2 linked regions of the Homo sapiens genome follow. The protein of the gene in region 2 interacts with the protein of the main gene of each other region in a pairwise test. Each region holds a gene or a part of one and is shown on either strand. Other genes may lie near its edges.

What was found. Proteins that work in one complex are often made in the same cells at the same time.
Region 1: the proteins of KIF17 (region 2) and MAP3K10 interact in a two-hybrid assay, tested with the Homo sapiens proteins (one study listed by BioGRID).

What each region holds. Positions count from the first base shown.
Region 1 is NC_000019.10:40,201,408-40,208,438, forward strand, and holds part of MAP3K10 (mitogen-activated protein kinase kinase kinase 10), read left to right. Parts: intron 1-3,077; coding exon 3,078-3,226; coding exon of another isoform or gene 3,227-3,250; intron 3,251-3,713; coding exon 3,714-3,889; intron 3,890-4,503; coding exon 4,504-4,750; intron 4,751-7,031. UniProt on the Homo sapiens protein: Activates the JUN N-terminal pathway.
Region 2 is NC_000001.11:20,666,008-20,673,007, reverse strand, and holds part of KIF17 (kinesin-like protein KIF17), read left to right. Parts: intron 1-811; coding exon 812-1,070; intron 1,071-2,516; coding exon of another isoform or gene 2,517-2,519; coding exon 2,520-2,587; intron 2,588-6,676; coding exon 6,677-6,794; intron 6,795-7,000. UniProt on the Homo sapiens protein: Dendrite-specific motor protein which, in association with the Apba1-containing complex (LIN-10-LIN-2-LIN-7 complex), transports vesicles containing N-methyl-D-aspartate (NMDA) receptor subunit NR2B along microtubules.

The sequences.
Region 1 (7,031 bases), on a different chromosome or scaffold from region 2:
CAGCCTTGATCTCTTGACCTCATGATCTGCCCACCTGGGCCTCCTAAAGTGCTGGGATTACAGGCGTCAGCCACCGCACCCAGCCTTTTTTTTTTTTTTTTTTTTAACAGGGTCTTGCTCTGTCACCCAGGCTGGAGTGCAGTGATGCCGTCACAAATCATTGCAGCCTCAACCTCCTGGGCTCAAGTGATCCTCCCACCTCAGCCTCTCTAGTAGCTGGGACTACAGGCATGCCACCACACCAGGCTAATTTTTTGTAGAGACGAGGTCTCACTTTGTTTCCTACGCTGGTCTCGATCTCTTGGGCTCAAGAGGTCCTCTTGTCTTGGCCTCCCAAAGTGCTGACATTACAGGCGTGAGCCACTGTGCCTAGCTCCACACGCCAGCTTTTTTTTTTTTTTTTTTTTTAATTTTAAGTTCTGGGATACATGTGCAGAACGTGCAGGGTTTGTTACATAGGTATACATGTGCCATGGTAGTTTGCTGCACCCATCAACCCATCATCTAGGTTTGAAGCCCCGCGTGTGTCAGGTATTTGCCTAATGCTCTCCCTCCCCTTGTCCCCCACCCCCCAGGCTCCAGGTTTTATGTCTACATTCCAACCACAAGAAGGGGAAAAAAGGAAAATGGCACCCCTTCTTTTTATTTTTTGAGACGTAGTCTCACTCTGTCTTCCAGGCTGGAGTTCAGTGGCACGATCTCAGCTCACTGCAAGCTCCGCCTCCTGGGTTCACGCCATTCTCCTGCCTCAGCCTCCCGAGTAGCTGGGACTACAGGCGCCCGCCACCACGCCTGACTAATTTTTTGTATTTTTAGTAGAGACGGGGTTTCACCGTGCTAGCCAGGATGGTCTCAATCTCCTGACCTTGTGATCCGCCCGCCTCGGCCTCCCAAAGTGCTGGGATTACAGGCGTGAGCCACCGCGCCCGGCCTCATTTTCTTACCCATGTTGTTTTTGTTCCTGCGCTCCTGTGCCTGTCTGCTGTGCTGAGCTGCAGATGTGTCCTGCCGCGGCTTCGCAGGACAGGGATAAGTTGAGACAGGAAGCAAGAAGCCTTGCCTGTCAGGCTGCCCTTGGCATGACTAGAGTGTATGTGGGGATTTTCACCTCTTATTTTGGGGTCCATTCTGTTCCTTCTTTGAACAATAGTCTTTACAGGATAGGGTGTTTGGGGACAGATTTCATCTTATTTAAGATATAAATAATATAAAATTAACCCACTATAAATTTATTTTTCATTTAAAAAAATTTTTAAAAGACAGGCTCTCACTCTCCCACGCAGGCTAGAATGTGGTGGTATAGTCATAGCTCACTGCAGCCTTGAACTCTTGGGCTCAAGCCATCATCCCACCTCACACTCTTTCCCGGCCGGGCACCCCTTCTTTTTGAGGATACTTCCTGGAAGCTAGTTGCCTACTACACCCCCTCCTACATCCCATGTACCAGAACTGTGGTCATGTGGCATGCTTAGCTGCAAAGGAGAATGGAAAATTCATGCAGGCAGCATGTGGCCAGCTCAATTCACCAGCACTGTCACTGAAGAATGGGAGGCTGTCAGCTGCATATGGGGGCAGTGATTGTGTCTATCTCTTCCCAATGTCTAAAATGGTGCTTGGCACACAGTAGGCACTTAATAAGTATACGTTGAATGGGCCGGGCGCAGTGGCTCATGCCTGTAATCCCAGCACTTTGGGAGGCTGAGGCAGGCGGAACCTGAGGTCAGGAGTTGGAGACCAGCCTGGCCAACATGGTGAAACCCCATCTCTACTAAAAATACACAAATTAGCTGGGATGGTGGTGCACATCTGTAATCCCAGCTACTTGGGAGGCTGAGGCACAAGAATCACTTGAACCCAAGAGGCGGAGGTTGCAGGGAGCCGAGATCATGCCACTGCACTCCAGCCTGGGTGACAGAGACTTTGTCTCAAAAAAAAAAAAGGATATGTTGAATGAATGCATGAGTGGATAGTGGGGAGACCAGGGATCTACTCCAGGATAAACACCACACAGAATGGCCATCAGGATCTGGGAGGATGTAGAGTTTGCAGAGGAAGATAGCCTTGCAGGGACCACAGCACAGTGACGCACGCTCTGGTACCATGGAGCCACTGAGAGCACTGTCGTGGGCAGCAGGCAGACCTGAGTCCAAGTGTGGCTCCACCACTCACTAGCTGTGTGACCTTGGGCAAGCCCCTTACCTCTCTGAGCGTGTACCTGCTCATCAGCTAAAGCAGGGGTCATACCAAATCCTTCTGCCTTACAGGGCTGTTGTGAGGATTACCGAGTGCCTAGCACAGTGCCTGGCCTGCAGTAAGTGCTTTATAAATGTTAAATAATGTTAACTGGTTTTTAGAGGTAAGTGCTGAGTGTTTTGGGGAAACGTAGAGGAGGGGCCTCTAACCTAGCTTTGGAGGCTGTGGAATCAAGGAAGGCTTCCTGACAGAGGGGGCAACCTGTGTTGAGACTTGAGGGACAAATAGTTACACAAGGGAAGAGTGTTCTCCACAAAGGGAACAGCATGTGTGAAGGCCAGAGGTTAGAAAGCACAGGGCCTGCTCAGTATTCAGTGTGGCTGCAAGATGAAGTTGGGGTTAGAATGGGCTGAGAGTGTTTGGAAGTGAGGCTGCAGGGGTCATCAAAGGCCAGGGCCAAGAAGGATGGATTTAGGTGGGATGCAGTGGCTCATGCCTGTAATCCCAGCACTTTGGGAAGCCCAGGCAGGAGGATCACTTGAGCCCAGGAGTTTGAGACCAGCCTGGGCAACATAGTGAGACCTCCATCTCTACAAAAATAAAAATAAGAAAGATGGATTTGGCCAGTAGGAACACGGGACCTGAAGATTTTCAGGCAGGGGAGAGGGAAGACAGGCCGAGCAAAGGAGAGACATCAGAGAGCCAAACCCACCCCATCTATTGGAGAACAAGGCCATGGAGGTCAAAGCAAGTTCTTGTGACCTCATTGGCCGGGGGTGGCTGTTGGGGTGAGGGCAGCCCTGCATGGGACCAAGGGCAGGGCTGGGTATAGGTGAGGATTGGGGTGGGCTGCGACATCACCCCTCCCTCTCCCCTGCCTGCAGCTTCGGGGTGCTGCTGTGGGAGCTGCTGACGGGGGAGGTCCCCTACCGTGAGATCGACGCCTTGGCCGTGGCGTATGGCGTGGCTATGAATAAGCTGACGCTGCCCATTCCCTCCACGTGCCCCGAGCCCTTTGCCCGCCTCCTGGAGGGTGAGCCGGGGCCCCGTGACGAGGGTAGGCTCAGCTTGGAGTGGCAGGGACCTGTGGGCCCAGACCTTTCCCCTTCACACCTATCCATACCAGTGGGCCCAGGAGTGAGGAAGAAGGGGCTGGAACCCACTGGACTCTAAACAGCCTCCCCATGGTTGGCTCCATCCCCCACATCCCAGCCCTTGTTTGGGCCAGGCCCAGAGCTCTCAGGACAACCTGTTAGGATTCCTTGGCCCTGGGATTCCACCTTGATCCTGATTCCACTACCAGCCCCTCCTCGGGGTGCAGGTCCCAGGGTTTCTCTCCCAGCGTTTCACTGAGTGGAATTGGCCAGGAGCTTGGCTTTGAATCCCTTCCCCTCAGCTCCATAGCAGCTGTTTGTCTGCCATCCCCAGAAATTCTGCCTTCCTCTGAGCAGGCTGAGTCCCCAGAGCATGACCACTGACACCTCCATGCCCCACCACTGTCCTTCCTCCTCCCACCCCAGAATGCTGGGACCCAGACCCCCACGGGCGGCCAGATTTCGGTAGCATCTTGAAGCGGCTTGAAGTCATCGAACAGTCAGCCCTGTTCCAGATGCCACTGGAGTCCTTCCACTCGCTGCAGGAAGACTGGAAGCTGGAGATTCAGCACATGTTTGATGACCTTCGGACCAAGGAGAAGGTGAAGGCAGGGGGCAAGGTGGGAAAGATGGAGCAAGACCCCTGAGTTCTGATGCCTTGGGCTGCTCAGAGACTCCTCCCCTGAACCCCAGCCTTTGGGTCCATGCAGGGTCAAGGGAGCCTTTTTTGCATATTAAGAAAAGACAGCCTCCTGTTGGTGGATTAATAAGAAAAAGGCACCCTGTACTGAAGTACTTACAGGTGACACTGCATGATGTCTGGGGTTGGCTTTAAAATACTACAGCAGAAACGAAGAGAGGGCAAGAGGAGAGAAGGACGGGGATACAAGATTCGCAAAGCATAGGTAATTGTTGAAATTGGATGATGGGTACAGGGGGGTGCACTGTTCTCTGCTTTTGTGGATGTTTGAAGTTTTCTAAATTGAAGAGTTAAGAAAGAAAAAGAAAGAAAAAGCACCCCTTTCTTTGAGCTAACACAGTTCCCTGCCCTGGCACCCAGCTTGGCTAGCAAAGCATGAGTCGGGTGGTGAAACCAGTGTACCCCACAGCAAGGTACCCTTGTGTGAGGCACCAACCAGACGCAGCAGCCCTGGGTCCCTCCCCAGGAAGCAGAGCAGCTAAGCCCCTCCCCCCAGCCACCGCCTCTCCTTCCCAGGAGCTTCGGAGCCGTGAGGAGGAGCTGCTGCGGGCGGCACAGGAGCAGCGCTTCCAGGAGGAGCAGCTGCGGCGGCGGGAGCAGGAGCTGGCAGAACGTGAGATGGACATCGTGGAACGGGAGCTGCACCTGCTCATGTGCCAGCTGAGCCAGGAGAAGCCCCGGGTCCGCAAGCGCAAGGGCAACTTCAAGCGCAGCCGCCTGCTCAAGCTGCGGGAAGGCGGCAGCCACATCAGCCTGCCCTCTGGTACCCACCCGTGTCCCCAGAGCGCCCCCCAAGAGGCTGCTGGGAGCAGCCCCGACCTAGGATTTATCTCTTCCTTTTCTTTTTCAACTTGTTTTTATTGCTAAATATATCGCACATAGTCAGTGATCAGCCCAGTGCAGTGGCGAGCACTTGTAGTCCCAGCCTACTCAGGAGGCCAAGGTGGGAGGATCACTTGAGGCCAGAAGTTTGAGACCAGCCTGGGCAACATAGACCCCATATTTACCAAAAAAAAAAAAAATTTTTTTTAATTAGCTGGCCACGTTGGCATGCACTTATAGTCCAAGCTAGTGGGGAGGCTGAGGTGGGAGGATCACTTGAGTCCAGGAGTTCGAGGCTGCAGTGAGCTGTAATTGCACCACTGCACTCCAGTCTGGGCAGCAGAGCAAGACCCTATCTCTAAAGGGAAGAAGAAGAAAAAAAGAAAATGACCAAAAACCTGTACAGCCAAATGAGTTACTCTAGTCACCCCCATGAAAGCAGAGAGAACCTCACAGCCATCCCAAGTGCTTTCTACCTGCCCCTCCAGACAACCTCACACCATCCCCTGAGAGGAACATCTGTCTTGACACTTAGGACAGTCACTTCTGAACTTTCTTTTTCATGTTATCTCTCTTTAAAAATATCTTTTAATCTGGCCAGGTGCAGTGGCTCACGCCTGTAATCCCAGCATTTTGGGAGGCCAAAGTGCGTAGATCACTTGAGGCTAGGAGTTCTAGAGCAGCCTGGCTCTAGAACATGGTGAAATCCCGCCTCTACTAAAACTACAAAATTAGCTGGGTGTGGTGGTGCACACGCCTGTAATCTCAGTTACTTGGGAGGCTGAGGCACAAGCATCGCTTGAACCCGGAAAGCAGAGGTTGCAGTGAGCCGAGATTGTGCCACTGCACTCCAGCCTGGGTGACAGAGTGAGACTCTGTCACAAAATATATAATTAAGATATACATATATATGCTGATATTTGACCATTTTTTTACCTACAAAAACAGAAGTTTCACATGGATCAACCTAATAGTTGGATCTCAAGACTTAATCAGATTCAGATTCAGGTTTGATTTTTTTTTTCCCCACACTGCTTCCCAGGTAATGCATTCAGGAGGGAGGCACGTAGTGTCTACTTGTCTCTTTCTGTGATGTTACAAGCCAGAAAGCAGTGCCTTAAGCAGCAGTGGCCAGTGGAAATATAATACAAGCCACGTGTATAATTTTAAATTTTCTAGTAAGCTACACATAAAAGCAAAAAGAAATAAGAGATGTCAATTTTAATATTTTTTATTAGGCCAGGTGGGGTGGCTCACGTCTGTAATCCCAGCACTTTTTGGGGCTAAGACGGGCAGATCACCTGAGGTCAGGAGTTTGAGACCAGCCTGACCAACATGGAGAAACCCCATCTCTACTAAAACTACAAAATTAGCCGGGCGTGGTGGCGCATGCCTGTAATCCCAGCTACTCAGGAGGCTGAGGCAGGAGAATCGCTTGAACCTGGGAGGCAGAGGTTGCAGTGAGCCGAGATCGCGCCATTGTACTCCAGCCTGGGCGACAAGAGCAAAACTCCATCTCAAAAAATATATATATTTTTTAATTTAGCCCAATATATCCATGCAATCAATACAAAATAATTGTGAGATATTTTACCTTCTTTTTTCACACTAAATCTTTGAAATCCAGATGTATTTTATATTTATGGCACATCTAAATTTGGACAGTAAATTTTCATTAAAAATTTTTTTTTTTCTGAGATGGGGTCTTGCTATATTGCCCAGGGTGGTCTTGAACTCCTGCGCTCAGGCAGCGCTCCCACTTTGGCCTCCCAAAGTGCTGGGATTACAGGTGTGAGCTACTGTACCTGACCCATCAAAAATATTGGATCTGTATTTAGATTTCATAAAAGTTAGAGTTGAAAAAGTACATATACATACCCAAGTTGCTCCAAACATGCTTAAATGTTTCCAATAACCAAATGGAGTACCTGTTTTTTGTTGTTTGTTTTTTTGTTTTTGTTTTTGTTTTTTTTGAGATGGAGCCTCGCTCTGTCACCCAGGCTGGAGTGCAGTGGCATGATCTCGGCTCACTGCAAGCTCTGCCTCCCAGGTTCATGCCATTCTCCTGCCTCAGCCTCCTGAATAGCTGGGACTACAGGCACCCGCCACCACGCCTGGCTCTTTCTTTCTTTTTTTTTTTTTTTTTTTTTTTTGTATTTTTAGTAGAGACAGGGTTTCACCGTGTTAGCCAGGATGGTCTCAATCTCCTGACCTCGTGATCC
Region 2 (7,000 bases):
AGTGATCCGCCCGCTTCGGCCTTCCAAAGTGCTGGGATTACAGGTGTGAGCCACCACGCCCTGCCTCAAACATCCTTCTTTACTAATCAGACTGTACCTGCTCTTTGAGGAAACAGACTGTGCACCAGGTAGTCTTGGGGCTCAGGGAGAGGGTGGTTATGGCTGGGGCTGGCAGTCACCTGTGCTCAGGAGGGACCGGGGGACCGGTCTGGCAGACTTGAGCAGGAGACCAAAAGAATCTGGAACCCTTGATCAGATCAAGGTGGGTCTTACTCTTAGGTCCATTGTTTAGGTCCAGTGTTTGTCACACCGTCACACAGGGCTGTGGCAGTGGGAGAGTGAGGATTGTCAAGTCGGAGAGTTTGTGCCTGTTGTCCTCCTTAGAGATGTCACTTGTGCAATTCTCTGATATCCTTTAGAACGGTGGTGTTGGATGTGGGGACTTCTCAAAGGCTCCTGAATAAAATGTACAATGGGAGATAGTGACTGAGGGGCTGGCTGTTGGGATTGCTGATCAACTTTTCCCCTACATTTTGCAGGGCTGGGGGGACACATTAGGTGCTCATTTAAATGCTGGGTGGAGAGACAGCAGGGTGATTGGATAGACGGAAGGATCAGTGGGTGTGAGAGGAGGTGGATGGATGGATGGAGGGAAGGATGGCTGGATGGATGGTGGGGATGAGAATGGATGGCTGATCAGGCCAATGAACAGACGATGCGTGGCTGCTGGCAGGACAGTGAGTGGACAGGGTGGTTAGATGGAAGGGGAGGTATCTTTCCCTGCTCACTGCTTGTCATCCTTTGCTTTCAGCTTCGGGCAGCAGAGGTGGAGATCAAAGATCTGCAGTCCGAGTTTCAGCTGGAGAAGATCGATTACTTGGCCACCATCCGCCGGCAGGAGCGTGACTCCATGCTCTTGCAGCAGCTCCTGGAGCAGGTGCAGCCCCTGATTCGCAGGGACTGTAACTACAGCAACCTGGAGAAGATTCTGCGTGAGTCCTGCTGGGACGAAGATAACGGCTTCTGGAAGATCCCACATCCCGTCATCACAAAAACCAGCCTCCCAGTAGGTCAGGAGCTTGGCTGGCCCTTGCCCTCCCCTCCCTCCTTCACGGCTTACCATCCTGCAGACTGGCAGGGAGTGTGGGCCTCTCCTTGCAGGCTGTGGGTGTAGAAGACACGTGACCCTGGGTACCTGATGCGTCAGGACTCTGAGAAAGTGGTGTGTTCTGGAGGCAGACAGATGTGGGTTGGAATTCTGGCAGCACCGTTCCCTGTGTGCCCTTTTTGGGACTCGGTGTCTTCATCTGTGAAATGGGGATGAATAACAGCACCTTTCTTAAAGTTGCTGTAAGGTTTGAAATGTGTTAATAGGCCAGGTATGGTGGCTCACGCCTGTAATCCCAGCACTTTGGGAGGCTAAGGCTGGCAGATTGCTTGAGTCCAGGAGTTCGAGACCAGCCTGGCCAACATGGTGAAACCCTGTCTCTAAAAAAAAAAAATAGAAAAATTAGCCAGGCATGGCAGCATGTACCTGTAGTCCCAGCTACTATGGGGGCTGAGGCGAGAGGATCGCTTGAGCCTGGGAAGTCAAGGCTGCAGTGAGCCAAGATCGTGCCACTGCACTCCAGCCTGGGTAACAAAGTGCGACCCTGTCTCAAAACAAACCCCGAAAAAACAAAAACCAGAAATGTGTTAATACACAGAAAACCCTTACAGCAGTGCCTGGCACATAGTGATGCTCGCTGCATGTCATTGTTATCCTAATCAGCATTGTCACTGGTTCATCCTTACGACAGCCCTGAGAAGACAGGTTTTCTACCCATTTCACATAGGAGGACACAATCTCAGAGGGTCCAAAGTCACAGTCACAGCAGTGAGTGGGAGGACCATGGATCAAAACCCACAGTTCAGAGTTTCAGGCCTGGTTCCACTTCCGCTCTTGCTGCTGACCTCCCGTATGGCCTTCCGAAGATCACTGTCCCTCTCTGGGCTTCTTTACAAAGAAGGGGTTGGATCAGATGACCTTGAAAGCCTCCTCACCTCTGATGAGTCTCAGAGTAAAGCCAGACATGCTGTGGCTCTTTCTCCAGCCGTGGACCTGACTCTGCCCATTTGGGGAGCCCGCAGTGCCCCCCAGGAGTCCTCCCTCTTGCTCAGCGTGTTCATCCAGGTCCAACATCTCTGATGTTTATTGACACCATCCCTGCTGAGACCCCAGCCCGCCTCCATTTCCCACATGCTCTGGGATGCAGCAGCCTTCCTGTCTGTCCCCACCCTCGCCTGCTGTCTTGCCTGGAAGCCCCTTGGCTGCTGTCTTGCCTGCAAGCAGATGAGGGTCTTCTCTGGTGCCTGAGCCCCTCCTGCTGTCTGTTTCTTAAAATTATCCCTTGGCTTGGGCTGGGAAGTGTCCTCCCCTGTTTAAGCCTGAGCCAGGCCTGACCCCCACCTCCACCTGTGCCCTCCTCTAGGCCTTGCACCAGGCAGCAGTGACTTCAGCTTTTGTTTTCTCATAGCAGTTTCAACTGGGCCACAGAACAAACCAGCCCGCAAAACCTCTGCAGCAGACAATGGCGAGCCGAACATGGTGAGGACCGCGGGAGAGGGAGTGGGGTGTCGGGGGCTGGGAGGGCTTTGCCCCCAGTGCTGTGGGTCAGTGTTACTGTGGAGAGCTGGTTTTCCACTTTCCTCCCGCCTAAGGATTAAAGAAGGGGCCAAGGCTGGATCCTTTTCATGCCCCTCCATTGGCACCTAGACCCTCAACCCCCTCTGGCCCTCATTCAAAGGTACTCACAGTCATAAATACCAAGGGAAAGTAGATGGTTCGGTGGCCCATCTTGCCGGTGAAGGACAGAGACTTCAGCCTCAAACTCAGAGGACAAGCAGCACATTCTGGTTTCCTGCTGGTAATCCTCAGACCAAGAGGGTCCTCACAGGGTTCATGAAGCAGTAATTGGGATTCCTAAGTCACTTTATTTTCCCGTCTCTCATATTCTGTCTTTTTTTTTTTTTTTCTTTTTCTAAGCTCAGTGGCAAGACCTATCTCCTATATTTTATAGTGCAACAGAAATGCATGTTCTTAAAGCATGGGTGGTGGTGGTTGTTTTTTTTTTTTTTTTTTTTTTTTTTTTTTTTTTTTTTTTGAGATGGAGTCTCGCTCTGTCACCAGGCCGGAGTGCAGTGGTGCGATCTTGGCTCACTGCAACCTCTGCCTCCCAGGTTCAAGCAATTCTCCTGCCTTGGCCTCAGCTGGGACTACAGGCGCGCACCACCATGCCCAGCTAATTTTTGTATTTTTAGTAGAGACAGAGTTTCACCGGGTTGGCCAGGATGGTCTCGATCTCTTGACCTTGTGATCCTCCTGCCTCAGCCTCCCAGAGTGCTGGGATTTCAGGCATGAGCCACCACGCCCGGCCTCTATTTTATTTTATTTTATTTTATTTATTATTATTATTATTATTATTATTATTTCGAGACAGAGTCTCGCTCTGTCGCCCATGCTAGAGTGCAGTGGTGCGATCTCGGCTCACTGAAAGCTCTGCCTCCCAGGTTCAGCCATTCTCCGGCCTCAGCCTCCCAAGTAGCTGGGACTACAGGCACCCGCCACCAAGCCCGGCTAATTTTTTGTATTTTTAGTAGAGACGGGGTTTCACTGTGTTAGCCAGGATGGTCTCGATCTCCTGACCTCGTGATCTGCCCGCTTCAGCCTTCCAAAGTGCTGGGATTATAGGCGTGAGCCACTGTGCCCAGCTAAGCGGGGTGTTTTCAACGAAACTCTTCCAGTTTTTTAAGTTAGCTGGGAGCTACTGTCCCCAGCAGCCACCAGAGGCCCAGACAGAAGGGCACCAGCGGGAGTCCACCAGTCCCTTGGGGTGGCCTGGTCAGCAGGCACAGCTTCCATGACACAACTCCATGAACAATGATATGAAAGTTGTTATTATTTACAGATCCTCAGGCTAGGCAGGGCCACCAGAGAGGGACCCAAGCAGCTGGACCCCCTCTTGGTGTCCTTGTGTCTGGGCCTCTGGTGGCTGCTGGGGACAATAACTACCAGCTAAGTTAACAGAGAAACTCTAAGAGTTTTGTTCAAAACAAGGGGTCAACAAAATTTTTCTGTAAAGGACCCGATCATAAATATCTTGGGCTTTGTGAACTATGTGGTCTCTGTCACAGCCACTCAACTCTGCCACTGTAGCACAAAAACAGCCACAGGTAATACACAAATGAATGGTGTTCCAATAAAACTTTATTTACAAAAATAGCCTGCAGGCCAGATTTGGTCTGTATGCCATAATTAGCTGATTCTGCCTTAAGCCATTACAAATATTTCAGAAAACCCACATAGAATATACCTTTACAGTTATGATAAGACCACTCCTAGGCTAATGAATTCCAACCAAACATCTCTGGCTGAGCAACTCAGGCTGCAAGGGGCCACTCATGGTGGTCTAGAGCTTGATTGGCAGCTTCATAAAAAAGGGAAAGTTGCTGCCAGGAAAAAAGACATTCTTAATCTGGGACCACAAAGAGGTTATGTCAGAATGCTTTCAGCTCCAAGCGATAGATACCAAAGCAAACAACCATAAGAAAAATAAGGAATTTTTTAGTTCATGTAAGTGGACCAGTTTCAGGCACGGCTGGATCTAGGGGCTGAAACAGTCAGGGTCTGTGTCTGTCTTCACCTCTTTTTTTTTTTTTGAGACGGAGTCTTGCTCTGTTACCCAGGCTGGAGTGCAGTGGTGCAATCTCGGCTCACGGCAAGCTCCGCCTCCCAGGTTCACACCATTCTCCTGCCTCAGCCTCCCAAGTAGCTGGGACTACAGGTGCCTGCCACCATGCCCGGCTAATTTTTTGTATTTTTAGTAGAGACGGGGTTTCACCATGTTAGCCAGGATGGTCTCAATCTCCTGACCTCGTGATCTGCCCACCTTGGCCTCCCAAAGAGCTGGGATTACAGGCATGAGCCACCGCGCCCGGCCACCTCTTTTTTTTTTTTTGAGACAGAGTTTCACTCTTGTTGCCCAGGCTGGAGTGCAGTTGTGCGATCTCAGCTCACCGCAACCTCTGCCTCCCAGGTTCAAGCGATCCTCTTGCCTCAGCCTCCAGAGTAGCTGGGATTACAGGCATGCACCACGACGTCCAGCTAATTTTTTTGCATTTTTAGTAGAGACAGGGTTTCTCCATGTTGGTCAGGCTGGTCTTGAACTCCTGGCCTCAGGTGATCCGCCTGCCTTGGCCTCCCAAAGTGCTGGGATTACAGGCGTGAGCCACTGCTCCTGGCCTATGTCTTCACCTCTTGTTCCTGCTTCCCTTGGTATGCTAACTGAAGGCTTTCTCCACATGGCCGGAAGGATGGCTGCTGGCCATTGGTGATCCAAAAGGAAGAGAGGCCTGGTCTGTTAAAGCAACTGTCCCCAGTCTTTTTGGCACCAGGGACCAGTTTCGTGGAAGACAATTTTTCCACAGGTCAGGACGGGGTGGGGGGTCTGATAGTTTCGGGATGATTCAAGTGCATTACATTTAATGTGGACTTCATTTCTATTAGTATTACATTGTAATATATAATGAAATAATTATATAACTCACCATCATGTAGAATCAGTGGGAGCCGTGAGCATGTTTTCCTGCAACTAGACGGTCCCATGTGGGGGTAATGGGAGACAGTGACAGATCTTCAGGCATTAGATTCTCATAAGAACCACAACCTGGATCCCTCACACGTGCAGTTCACAATAGGGTTTGCCCTCCTATGAGAATCTAATGCCACCACTGATCTGACAAGAGGTGCAGCTCAGGCAATAATTCAAGTGATGGGGAGCAGCTGCAAATACAGATGAAGCTTCACTTGCTCACCTGCCGCTCACTTCCTGCTGTGCAGCCCAGTTCCTAACAGGCCAGGGACTGGTACCAGTCCATGGCCTGGGGGTTGGAAACCCTTGTCTTAAAGCATCCTGAAACTAGAGCTTGGGGAGAGATTCTGATTGGCTCTGCCTGGGTCATGTGTCTACTCTTGAACCAATTACTGTGTTTAGGAGGATGTGGTTCTGTGATTGGTGCAGTCTGGGTCACATGTCCAGCTGTGTAACAACAGGATGGGAGTCAGATGTAGTATAGGGCACTATGAATGCTCACCCCACTGGGATGTCAAGTGGAAGAAGGACAATTCCCTGAAAAGGGAGATTTAGATTGAAGAAAACAAGTCCATAATAGTGGGGAAAAATAATAGCTCTTGGTGATAAGAAGGTTTGGATTCCAGTTCTAATGATCACAAATGTACCTGTGAGCTGAGGATAGCAACGCATTGCCTATTCTATGAACATGTCGTGATAGATTTGGGGCTTGTGTATCAACCCGGCCCCCCTGTTGGAGCTGGCAGGACACCCTGTTTTGAGCTTTGTAGGACAGAATAAGGCACTTCCCATCTCAAGGAAGGGGAGGCCGGGTGCAGGCTTGGCTGGAGACTGACTTCCTGGCCCCGAGCTGCCTGGGATCCCACCCCCGAGTCCAGGATCTACGGTGTAGGGTACACCAGAGTGGGCAGTGCCTGCTCCAGCCCTGTGACAACTTCGGGGAAGCTCGGGGCGGCCCCCACTGCCCCAGGATACCAGAGGCTGTGGAGCCCTGTGCCAGGGGCACAAACAAGGGGACGTGACCACGGGCATCTGCATCTCGGCAGGAGGACGACCGCTACAGGCTCATGCTCAGTCGGAGCAACAGTGAAAACATTGCCAGCAACTACTTCCGATCTAAGCGGGCCAGCCAGATCCTCAGCACAGACGCCAGGAAGAGCCTCAGTGAGTGTCCCTCCCCTGTCCCCACCCTCTCCACACAACTGGGAGAGGCGTGAAGGGGATAGTTTTGAAGTCAGACAGGCCTGGGTTCAAAAACTCCTTTCCCTCTCGGAGCCTCAGTTTCCTTAGCTACAAAATGAGGGGGGTAACACCAACTTCTTAGGATTAGGTGATACGAGGTGAGGAAACGGCCCAGCCCGGGCGCTGGT